3 linked regions of the Homo sapiens genome follow. The protein of the gene in region 2 interacts with the protein of the main gene of each other region in a biochemical or structural test. Each region holds a gene or a part of one and is shown on either strand. Other genes may lie near its edges. The genes, in order: LRRK1, C11orf52 and SRPK1.

The links.
Region 1: the proteins of C11orf52 (region 2) and LRRK1 form a complex in vitro, tested with the Homo sapiens proteins (one large-scale study listed by BioGRID).
Region 3: of the proteins of C11orf52 (region 2) and SRPK1, one has a biochemical effect on the other in vitro, tested with the Homo sapiens proteins (one large-scale study listed by BioGRID and IntAct).

What each region holds. Positions count from the first base shown.
Region 1 is NC_000015.10:101,062,241-101,065,888, reverse strand, and holds part of LRRK1 (leucine-rich repeat serine/threonine-protein kinase 1), read right to left. Parts: intron 3,316-3,648; coding exon 3,199-3,315; intron 2,488-3,198; exon of another isoform or gene 538-2,487; coding exon 1-537.
Region 2 is NC_000011.10:111,917,359-111,921,778, reverse strand, and holds the start of C11orf52 (uncharacterized protein C11orf52), read right to left. Parts: upstream 2,867-4,420; 5' UTR 2,807-2,866; coding exon 2,775-2,806; intron 1-2,774.
Region 3 is NC_000006.12:35,883,069-35,886,716, forward strand, and holds part of SRPK1 (SRSF protein kinase 1), read right to left. Parts: intron 1-3,648. UniProt on the Homo sapiens protein: Serine/arginine-rich protein-specific kinase which specifically phosphorylates its substrates at serine residues located in regions rich in arginine/serine dipeptides, known as RS domains and is involved in the phosphorylation of SR splicing factors and the regulation of splicing.

The sequences.
Region 1 (3,648 bases), on a different chromosome or scaffold from region 2:
GCTCACGTCCGCGATGGAGTCCCCCTCAGGCACCTTTGGGTTGGCCGTGTGGCTGGCTGCCGGGGGTTCCGTGTCCAAGGGCCGCACGGGAAACATGTCCCTGAGGGGGCTGGGGACCCCGCAGAAGTACCGGGCACACAGCTGGTAGGTGGTGGAGTGGTACATCACCAAGGAGTTGGCCTTGTCATCCAGGCACCAGACGACCTCCTCCCCTCTGCCCTCAGAGCTGCACACGACTGACGTAACCATGGAGGGGGCCATGTAGGGCTCCAGCCGCCTGCAGATCTCCAGGGAGGCACAGTCGATGACAAGGAGGCCCGGCCCATTGCTGTACCAGACCTCAGAGCCGCTGTTGACCACCTCCATGGCCTTCACTGGGTAGGGGTTCTGCCGTGCGTCTTCATCCGCGATGCTGAACTTGGACCTGTTGGCTGTGTGTGAGCACAGGTAGGAGCAGCTGTCCTTTGGGGTGCCCCGCACCACGGGAAACACAGCCACAAGCCCATCGGCGAGGCCCGCTAAGACCAGGTAGGAATTCTGAAGGAAGGAGACAGGGATGTGTCACATCCTTCCATTTCACACATTCCAAGAGAGACACAGAGTAGGCACTGGACTCATCTGCACCCACACCAGGCGGGCAGTCACTTTCCACCAGTGCGCCTCAGGGCAGCAAATCTCTTAGAAAGGCCGGGGCTACTCCTAAAGAAGTGCAGCTCTGACTCCGCAGAGCCATATCTACCATCCCTGCAGCAAAGAAAGGAATGTGCCACCCAGAGGCAGGGCCTGTGGCACCAAGTAAGGCTGCGTGTCACCTGGACCACATGGGCTGCCTCTGCTTCTGCCAGCTTCTTGCAGGGCGAGCAGCAGGGAGCTGCCTTCTCCTTGAGGCCACCAAGGCCTCCTTCAGAGGCAGGACCTGGTGCCCCCGCCCTTTTCTCGGTGCTGCTTAACATGACAGCAGTGGGGGCATGGCAAGCATCTGTGCACTGCCCCCTGCCTGCCACCCCCCCCACCAGGCAGAGTGTTCCATAAGGATGGGCTCCCAGCCCACCAGCATCCCCGTGGCACTAGCCTGGCACAGGGAAGGGCTCAGTCTCCTTCATCTTGGTGGCCCTGTGACTCCACCTGGCTCCTGCTCCAAGTGGATGACATGTGTTTGCTGAACTAATTCTGGAAGAAATCGCTTCCTACTCAACCCTCTTCTGGAGGCCTGTCTCAGCCTGCTGAGCCCTCATCCCAGCTTACATCTATCGAGATGCCTGTGGTTCAGCTGACGTTGACAGGGTCCTCAGGGTGCCCCCCACCCCCTCAATGAAGCATGAGCTCTTCTACACCCGCCAGAGGTCACCGGGCAGAGGCCAAAGTTGCAGGGACCTTGCTGAATGCTGGGCCCACCCCAGACCGCCCCGGGGCACCTCCCAGGGCAGAGCCAGGAACAGAGTGCAGCTCCGCAGCCTAGACACCGCGTCGGCTGTGGTGGGGGTGGGAAGAGGTCTGCAGAACAAAGCTGGAGTCAGGGCAGAGCAGGGAGCTGGGCCTCATGCCAGTGAGGGGGCAGGGCAGAAAGCCTCCTTGTGGGGAGCTGGGGGAGCTCAGGAGGCTGGCTGTGCAGGGCAATGGAGTGGAGACCCGTAGCTCACTGTCCAGGACAACATGCTCTAAGAAAGCGTATCGAAATCCATCCCCAGGACTTTAGGGAAAGAAGGCAGCCAAGGCAAACAGGCTCCAGGTCTCTATCTGCAGTCCTGGCTCAGGCCCCGGCCAGGGCGGTGAGTGCCACGTCCCGGCTGGGTGTGAACGTGGGTGCGCGTGCAAGAATGCAGGCTTCGCGCTGGCGGCCTTGGAGGGGGCAGACACCCTGCCCAGGAGGCCCTGCACAGAGCAGGCTTTATTCCCTCTGGTCGTGCAGGAGGTGGTGCCCTGGCTGGGGGCTCTCGCCAGCGGTGGCCTCAATAACACTTTGTGTCGTGTTCTCCTGCGCTCTGGTACGGGCCTGGTCCCAAGCTGCGTAGCCTCGCTGTGGGGCCATGGTCATAAATGACTCTAAGGTTCATTTCATACCTGTTTTTTTTTTTTTTAAATGAAACTGAAGAAGGGTGAAGAGAAGAGTTCATGTATTTTGCGACCATCCAGAAGTAATAATAATACTCATTTACCAAGCACACCGGCCTAGACCTTTGGGTATGCTAGGCCTTCTGTCTCTTCTTATACCTGTTTTGTAGATGGGCAAACTGGAATTGGATGATGACAGTCACATTTTAACAAAGCAACACCAGTAAAGGCTTCTTGTGCATTTAGTGAGGGCGCCTATGCACAGACAGGCCCCTCAGGGTGGATGAAACCAGAGCTGGCTGAGCCGTGCCTGAATCCTGTGGGCGGAGGAGCCCGGAAAAGCCAGGGAGCTGCCCCCCACTGAGGGGCAGCTTCTCAAAGGAGGGGACAAGGCCCCGGGTCTTGAGAACTGAATCGGAGGCCGTCTGGGAAGAGGTGCGTGGAGGGGCTGTTCCTGGAGGAGGCTGGGATGTCAAGGGCCCAGCACAGAGTGGGGTGCTTTGTGGGGAGGGTGCCGGGCCCAGCAGGGACTGGAGGCCAGCCTCATAGAGGCTGGGGCTAATCCCAAGGTGCAGCACAGCTGGCTGGGCCTTTAATGGGGAGAGTGCCCCTTGGGGTCTCATTTAGAAAGGCCAGGGCTAGGAGGTTAAAGAGCTGAGTCTGCAGGGCTATGCTGCACAAAGAGAAACTGCGTCTGGTGTAAGACGGCGAGTACTTGGCGGGAGGCAGAGATGGAGGGAGGGAGATCAGGACCTCCAGGACCTGGTGATCAAGTGGCTGTGAGGTGGCTCTGGCCTGGGCAGGTGGGGAAGAGGCTCCGGATAGGGGAAGGGCACACGCATGACTGCTCACCGTGCCATTTGTACCAACAGTCCTTCCACCTGAGTCAGGGCATTTGCATGTGAAAGGGGGTTTTTCATTCGGCCTGCAGTCTGGCTGGGGACTTGACTTAGGTTTTTGCAAACCGGAAGGCACTAATGACGGACCAGGTCTGATATCTTTCCTCCCACCGTCTCTAAGTCTACGTCCTAGGCCAGGTGGTCCTAGGTGTGGCTCTGCAGGCGCCACCCTGACATAGCTAGGAGACGCCTCCTAGGCGTGGAAGTGCATCAGAGACCTGCATACCTGCCTTTGCCCCGACCTCACCTTTTTAATAACAGGCACGGCCAAGAAGCAGGTGACGACAGCTGGAGTATCCAAGGCCTGTTGGGGTGTGTTTAAGGGGCACATGCCCTTGAGGGTGTAGATGTAGATTTTCTGGTCCTGCAGAGGCAGACAGGTCCACTGTGAGACCCAGGCTGGAAAGTGTCTGGCATTTCCCAAGCCATTCCCATGAGGATGCACTTGGACTTGGGGATCCCCTATGGGTCTTGGAAAGTTACATGGATTGACACGTTCTGGTGGGTTGTTTATGGATTTCTGCTCTTTGTAGAAACGTTGAAAAAGACAGACTAGTCTAAAGAGGAAACAGAAAATAGCCCGTCATCTATTCCCCAGAGAAAACCAACATTGGGATCTGGGGGCACAGCCTCTCAGAAGTTCTCTGTGGTATTTGTGTGTGCACCTGGTACTGGCAAAGTGGACTCACGCCGCAAT
Region 2 (4,420 bases):
AATGTAAAATACTTAGCATGGTTCCTAGCATATAATAAGCATGAGTAAAAGTTGACCACTAATGACTATCACCATCAGAGAACTAATCAGTAATGAAAAAAGAATACCAACACTTGGGAAGAAAGAGAATAAAAGAAGCTGTTACATCTCCTTCTCTAGAAGCTTTTCTGTGCTTCTAGATGTCCTATGTCTATAGGGCACCTCAGAGTTTAAAGGGTGCTTTATTTTTTCAATCCTGACATTCCAGGAAACACATATTTTTGTTCCCATTTTACAGACGGGTTAATGAAGGGCCTTTTTTACTAACTTAATAAAGAGTAAAATTTTCCATGATGTTAGGTGTTCTTCCAACATTCTTTATGAAGTGGCTACGTATTTCCCATTAATTGGATATGCCATGTATTTAGACAGTTACCAAATGTTGGACCTTCAGGGTATTTCTTACTCAACAAGGCAGGGACCAAATGTCCTTTTATTACTATGTCTTCTGTGTCTATCACTGTGCCTGTAGTACATGTTCAATAAACACTGTTTAATAAATGAATGGATAAATGAATGAGTAGTAGGGCAGGACTTGAATCCAATGTACTACTCCAAAACCTGTGTGTTTTCCAATGCACTTCACTTGTCTATCTAAATATAATGATGCTTTATTTATAACATGACATCTTCCAGATCTGCCCCAGGCATGGAAGGCAGTAGACAGAATAAAACCAGGACCAGGAATTTACGGCATGGCAGTGATGAAAATTCTGGGAAAGAATAGTAACAACCCCACAGATAATTTATTATGAGGTTTTCACATACGCTATATCCTTTGCTCTTCAAAATAAGCCTGTGATCTACACAATGTAGGATGTATTATCTACATTTTACATGTGAGGATGGATACAGAGAAATTAAGGGACTTATTACCTATGGTCACATAGTAAATAAGTGTGAAAGTCATATTCAGATATTCCATGGATATTCTTCTTTTTCCTACTTCTGCCCTTTTATTTTTATTTTCATTTTTGAGACAGGGTCTCATTCTGTCACCCACACTGGAGTGCAGTGGTGTGATCATGGTTCACTGCAGCCTCTACCCCCAGGGCTCAGGTGATCCTCCTGCCTCAGCCTCCCAAGTACCTGGGATTACAAGCACGCACCACCACGCCTAGCTAATTTTTAATTTTTTTGTAGAGATGGGGCCACCCTATGTTGCCCAGGCTGGTCTCAAACTCCTTTTCTTTTTTTTTTTCAAGACATAGTCTCGCTCTGTTGCCCAGTCTGGACTGCAGTGGCGCAATCTCAGCTCACTGCAACCTCTGTCTCCCAAGCTTAAGGGATTCTCGTGCCTTAGCTTCTCAAGTAGCTCAGATTACAGGCGTGTGCCACCATGCCTGGCTAATTTTTTTGTATTTTTAGTAGAGATGGTGTTTTGCCATGTTGGCCAGGCTGGTCTTGAACTCCTGGCCTCAAGTCATCTGCCTGCCTCAGCCTCCCAAAGTGCTAGGATTACAGGTGTGAGTCACTGCATCCGACCACTTCTGCCCTTTAATTTATTTTATTTTATTTTATTCTATTTTATTTTATTTTATTTTTGAGACGGAGTCTTGCTCTGTCACCCAGGGTGGAGTGCAGTGGTGCAATCTCGGCTCACTGCAAGCTCCGTCTCCTGGGTTCAAGGGATTCTCCTGACTCAGCCTCCCGAGTAGCTGGGACTACAGGCACCCACCACCACGCCCGGCTAATTTTTTGTATTTTCAGTAGAGATGGGGTTTCACCGTGTTAGCCAGGATGGTCTCGATCTCCTGACCTCGTGATCCACCCGCCTCGGCCTCCCAAAGTTCTGGGATTACAGGCGTGAGCCACCACGCCTGGCACTTCTGCCCTTTTAAATAAACATTGCTTCAAAGTTGACTTGCTTGATCTAAGAGGCAATATTATGCAGTGGTTCAAAAGGTGGCCTCTGAAGTCAGGTGGGCCTCAGTTGGAATCTTGGTTTACTTGCTTACCAGCCATGTGACCTTAGGCAAGTTAGTTAATTTCTCTGAGCCTCAGTTTCTCAGCTGACTGTAAAATAGGAGGAGGGGCAAAACCATTTACCTCATAAAGTATTGGAAAAATTAAATGAGACTGTAAAATGTCTGGCACATAGAAAGCTCTCAAGTGCTACAATTATTACTCTCATCCAGGAAGAAAGGGAAAGAAGGGGAAAGGGAGGAAGAGGGCACAGAAAAACAATGCCGGTTCAATATTCCTGCCCTGCTCTGGCCATTCCGCAGACAGCTAGCTTGGCTCTGTTTTTTTTTGTTGTTGTTGTTGTTGAGACAGTCTCGCTCTGTTGCCAGGCTGGAGTGCAGTGGCGCGATCTCGGCTCACTGCAACCTCCGCCTTCCGGATTCAAGCGATTCTCCTGCCTCAGCCTCCCGAGTAGCTGGGACTACAGGTGCGCGCCACCATGCCCAGCTAATTTTTGTATTTTCAGTAGAGACGGGGTTTCACCATGTTGGCTAGGATGGTCTCGATCTACTGACCTCGTGATCCGCCGGCCTCGGCCTCCCAAAGTGCTGGGAGTAGAGGCGTGAGCCACCGCGCCCAGCCACTTGGCTCTGTCTTCTAAGGCCTCCTGAAAGGAGGTGCTGCTCTGGTGTTGGAACAAGGAGGTACCAGGCAGAGGAAGGTGGCAGTGGGAGGCTGGCAGACAACTATCTCCAGGTCCTCTGATTTTCGGGGCCTCTACATCCACCAACAGAGATAGATGTTCCCCTTTGCCCTTCCAGCCTACTCACCAGCTTCCTCCGCAGCAGACCCGGTTTCCCATGGCGCTCTGTCTCCAAGGGAGCCCAGCTGTTTTTATGCATCAAGAGGCTTGTGCATTTCCGGGTTCCTGGTTGAGCTTTCCGCGGCAGCTCCCGGAGTCTGTGTCAGTGTCAGATTTCAACCTAGCAGGTTGGACTTTTGAAGCCACCTGCTGGAATGATTCCCAGGTGACTGTGTTCCCAGCCAAAGGGTAGAACAACACACGGGCTCCAGGTGAGAGCTATCTCAACTTCAGGATTTGAAGCGTCTTTTGATGAAGCCATGAACTTGAGCTTCAAGCTTCAATAAAAAGAAACCTGAGATAGAAAAGGGCTCTTGGTTTCCTTACGAAATGCTTCTCCATTACATCACTCTGTCTTTGAAATATATCCTCTATAATAGATGAGTGCCTAATGTAGTAGTTTGCTCAGCACCACTCAGGTTTAACTGAGTTTCACTTTCGAGGCAATTGGTACCAGTTTCTTATTATTTTTGTACAGAATCTGGGTTGGGATACTGGAGTCTCTTGGAAACTTAAGTTTGGGGAAATGGGTTCCTCATATATTCTCCCTTGCTATTTGAAATCGATGTGGGCAAATCACTTAACCTTTATAGGGCCTAAGTTTCTAGGGCTGTGAAATGAAAAAAACTGAATCTAATCCCCTTTCTGGTATAAAATCAGATGATTCTATGATCAGGATGGCCTCAGCACTTCTTAACCACTCATTTCCTTATCCACAGTTCAGAACTACTGATTCTCCACTTACCCCTCAACTCTGCGTCTCCTTCCAGTAACCCAAAGTTAGACTCACCCGCACTCACCAGTAGAAAATATGGGCTCTACGAGAATCTGTGAAACCCATCATTCTTGTGTTCAGTTCTCTCACCCCATTTTTAGTGTTTTCCTCGGATGCCTGGTTATTGTCCTTTAAGTGGATGTTCAGGGCCCACCACTCAGCTCTGCACTCCACAGAGAATACCCTGGACTTTGAACTCCTCCTCTTATGAAACATGGGTAAGAGTGACAATCTTACAGGATTGTGGTGAAAAATAAAGCTCTAGTGCAGGGCCTGGCACATGGGACACACTCAGTAAGAGTTAGGCATTGTTGTTATTATTACAAAGCATCTTATTTTCTTTCTTTCTTTTATTTTTAAAGACAGGGTCTCAATCTGTCACCCAGGCTGGAGTTGAGTGGCTAGCTCACTGCAACCTCAAACTCCTACGCTCAAAAGATTCTCCCCCCTCAGCCTCTCGAGTAGCTGGGACTACAGGCTCACACCACTGTGCCTAGCTAATTAAAAAAAAAAAAATCTTTTTAGAGACAAGGTCTTTTTTTTTTTTTTTAAATTAATGTGAGATGGGGGTCTTGTTATGTGGACCAGGCTGGTCTCGAACTCCTGGCCTCAAGCAATCCTCCCATCTCAGCCTCCCAAAGTGCTGGGGTTACAGGTGTGAGGCACCACACCTGGCCAAGATAGGGTCTTGCTATGTTGCCCCTGCTGGACTTGAACTTCTGGCCTGAAGTGACCCTCCCACCACGCCTGGTTCCCACATCTTACTTTCTTTTCTTGTGCCCCAATCATTGCACTATTTCATGGCCATGCTTCTTCCATGCAATCCATTCTGTACTCTA
Region 3 (3,648 bases), on a different chromosome or scaffold from region 2:
AGTGCTGGGATTATAGGCGTGAGCCACTGCACCTGGCCAGGAAATTTTTTTAAACAAGCAATTAAATAGGCTGGGCATGGTGGCTCATGCCTTCAATCCCAGCACTTTGGGAGGCTGTGGCAGGTGGATCGCCAACATGGCAAAACCCCGTCTCTGCTAAAAATACAAAAACTAGCTGGGCGTGGTGGTGTGCATCTGTAATCTCAGCTACTCGGGAGGGTGAGGAAGGAGAATCGCTTGAACCTGGGAGGCGGAGGTTGCAGTGAGCCGAGATTGCGCCATTGCACTCCAGCCTGGCCAACAAGAACGAAACTCTGTCTCAAAATAAATAAAAATAAAAAAGCAATTAAATAAAAAAAATTATCAAAACAAGATTATTTAAAATGCAGATTACTTAAAAAGACTAAACATAAAATAGGATTGTAAAGCTATTCTCTTATGTTTCTAGCTTCCATCTGCTTAATTTTTATTTGTTGAGAGAAGTATTACAATTTGAAAATGTTTTAATTTGTAAGCAGTGATATTAAAATGACCAAACATATAGTAGCTTAAAAAAAAACTTGACAGAACATCATAATCAAGTGGCAAAAAGGAAGAGCCAAATAATTTGAGTGAAAGAAAGCTAATGAGTAGCAATCAGAAGCACTAGTAATTGAAATCACAAGGTTATTTTTTTTTTTTTTGAGGCGGAGTCTTGCTCTGTCGCCCAGGCTGGAGTGCAGTTGGCGCTATCTTGGCTCACTGCAATCTCCTCCTCCCAGGTTCACGCCATTCTCCTGCCTCAGCCTTCTGAGTAGCTGGGACTACAGGCGCCTGCCACCACGCCCAGCTTTTTTTTGTATTTTTAGTAGAGATGAGGTTTCACCGTGTTAGCCAAGATGGTCTCGGTCTCCTGACCTCGTGATCCGCCCACCTCGGCCTCCCAAAGTGCTGAGATTACAGGTGTGAGCCACTGCACCCGGCCCACAAGGTTATATTTTTAAAAAAATCTAATGGGGAGACAGTGTAAAGAAAATAACAAAAGGCTGAAAATAAAAGGCTTATGTTATTGAGTAAGCACATTTAGGGCACATTATGAATAAGAGGAGCTAGCAAAACAGACAGAATACAGCATGAAAAAAAAAGTATCCTAAAGACATAGGAGGTCATATAAGCAGACAATAATGACTGGCTAATGTCAACATTATATAGAGAAACCAACTGTCCTCCTTCTTAATCATTCTTTTCCCCTCACCCTCCAGGCAAGTAGAGTGAGCCAGTTTATATGGAATTCTGTAAGAACTAACTTTCTAGTTTAGGGCCCTTTATATTTTAATATGAGAAACGATAGTGGTCCAGAGAAAAAAACGCCTGAACAAACATACACACGAATGTGGATGTACTGCTCTGTGTGGGTATGTTATGTTGGGAAAACGGGTAGAGGCAGGAGAGTGACATGAGCCATTACTAACCCTTAACATAGTGTTTTGAGTTATATCCTTTCAATCTCTAACAGTAGTAAATAATGCAGGAGCAAAGACAGCTGGGAGATAAGGATGAAGAAAGACAGGAAAAAATGGCTAAGAACAAATGGAGAAAAGAATAAAATAGGGAATCAATGGACAGAAGCTACAGAGAAACCACCTAGCAATGTTTGAAAAATATCTTGGGGGCCGGGCACGGTGGCTCACACCTGTAATCCCAGCACTTTGGGAGGCCGAGGCGGGCAGATCACCTGAGGTCAGGGGTTTGAGACCAGCCTGGCCAACATGGTGAAACCCCATCTCTACTAAAAATACAAAATTAGCTGGGTGTGGTGGCATCCACCTGTAATCCCAGCTACTCGGGAGGCTGAGGCAGGAGAATCACTTGAACCCAGGAGGCAGAGGTTACAGTGAGCCGAGATTATGCCATTGAACTCCAAAAAAGAAAAAGAAAAATATCTTGGAACTTGAAATTCAAACCTACTAAGATATTTCAATAGTTAAAAAGCCTTCTTTGCTTAGTTAGGGTCAAATAAAGGTACTCAGCATTACTGGGGAGATTTGAGAGTATTTCTATAGTTTTACTTGGAACTTTTGCAAATTAGTAAAGAAATCTGGCACAATGACAAACATTACAAGATTAAATAATAGAAAAAACAGATATGGCCATCACGACACCCTGTGTAGGTTTTTAAAAAATTACTTGGTTTAGAATTCTTAATTCTTTGAACACACACACACACACACACACACACACACACACACACAGAGAGAGAGAGAGAGAGAGAGAGAGAGAGAGCCATCTACAAAGTGACCACAATAAGCACAAGATACTGTTTTAAGATGGTTGCAGCAGTTTTCCTTAGACATCTGGGTAATCTGTGATTTGTATTTTTCTAAGAAATGACTCAGAATTGACTTTAGAACAATAGTCTTTCCACATTATCAGCTGTTCTCTCTCCTTTCCCATCCCTTCCTTCCTGCTTCTCTGTTCAAATCTCTTCCCATAGTCTACATGAAACTAGTCATATGTAGTCCTGTCTCCTTTAAATACAAAAAGATCAACAGCAATTAGGAATGTGCATTAAAGGAAGCTAAACATGCATGAAAAGTAAAATAATGTATGAAATGTCTTTATACATTTTAAAAACAGCTTATAAACAGGTGATTTTAGATTTATCCAATCTAAGTAAGATTCGACTTCATCTTTTACTGAAAAATCTGATTGACCTTTATAAGCACAGCTGTTGCAATAACCTTTCCATTAGCTCACCGCACGTCACTTTGATACCTGTGAAGAAAATCAGCTATGGTTCCTTTCAATTCTACAGTTCTAAAACATCCAGATAAAAACATAAAACAAGTCAGTTTTTCATTATAATAGAATGTGAACAATTACACCCTTTTAGACTCTAAACATAAACTACATTCACAGCCTCTTCAAAGTTGAGGCTTAGTATAATAAATACAATCATACCTTAAATTGTTCATCCAGTTTCTTTCTTCCTTTCTTTTTCTTTCTCTCTTTTTCTCTTTCTTTTAGACAGTATCTTTTTTTTTTTTTTTTAGACAGAGTCTGGCTCTGTCCCCCACGCTGGAGTGCAGTGGGCTCAATCTCGGCTCACTGCAACCTCTGCCTCCCCAGTTCAAGTGATTCTCCAGCCTCAGCCTCTCCAGTAGCTGGGATTACAGGAGCCTGCCACCATGCCCAGCTAATTTTTGTATTTTGGTAGAAACAGAGTTTCACCATGTTCGCCAGGTGGGTCTTGAACTCCTGACCTCAGGTGATCCACCTGCCTCGGCCTCCCAAAGTGCTGGGATTACAGGCTTGAGCCACCGTGCCCGGCCTACTCAGTATTTTTCATAAGAAATTACTTCCCTTAAAGTTTCTGTGCTAACTGACAAAAATCATAGACTCTTTACTTAGTGATACAACGCATTTTCTAAAAGTTTCCTTTGATTTCGCTTTAATTTGCCTGAAAAGAGGACAAGAAGCTTAAAGCAATATTCTGAAAAATCACACCACACAAAATTAGACAAAATTCAGATGTGTGTTCAGAAGTGTACAATAAAAGAGGTAATTTTATTATAGTTTGCCTTAGAAAAGACACCAAGGCCATCTACACAACAAATCTAGTTCCTTTCTTTGGGATTGGGATGATTTATTCTCAAATAGGTTTTTAAA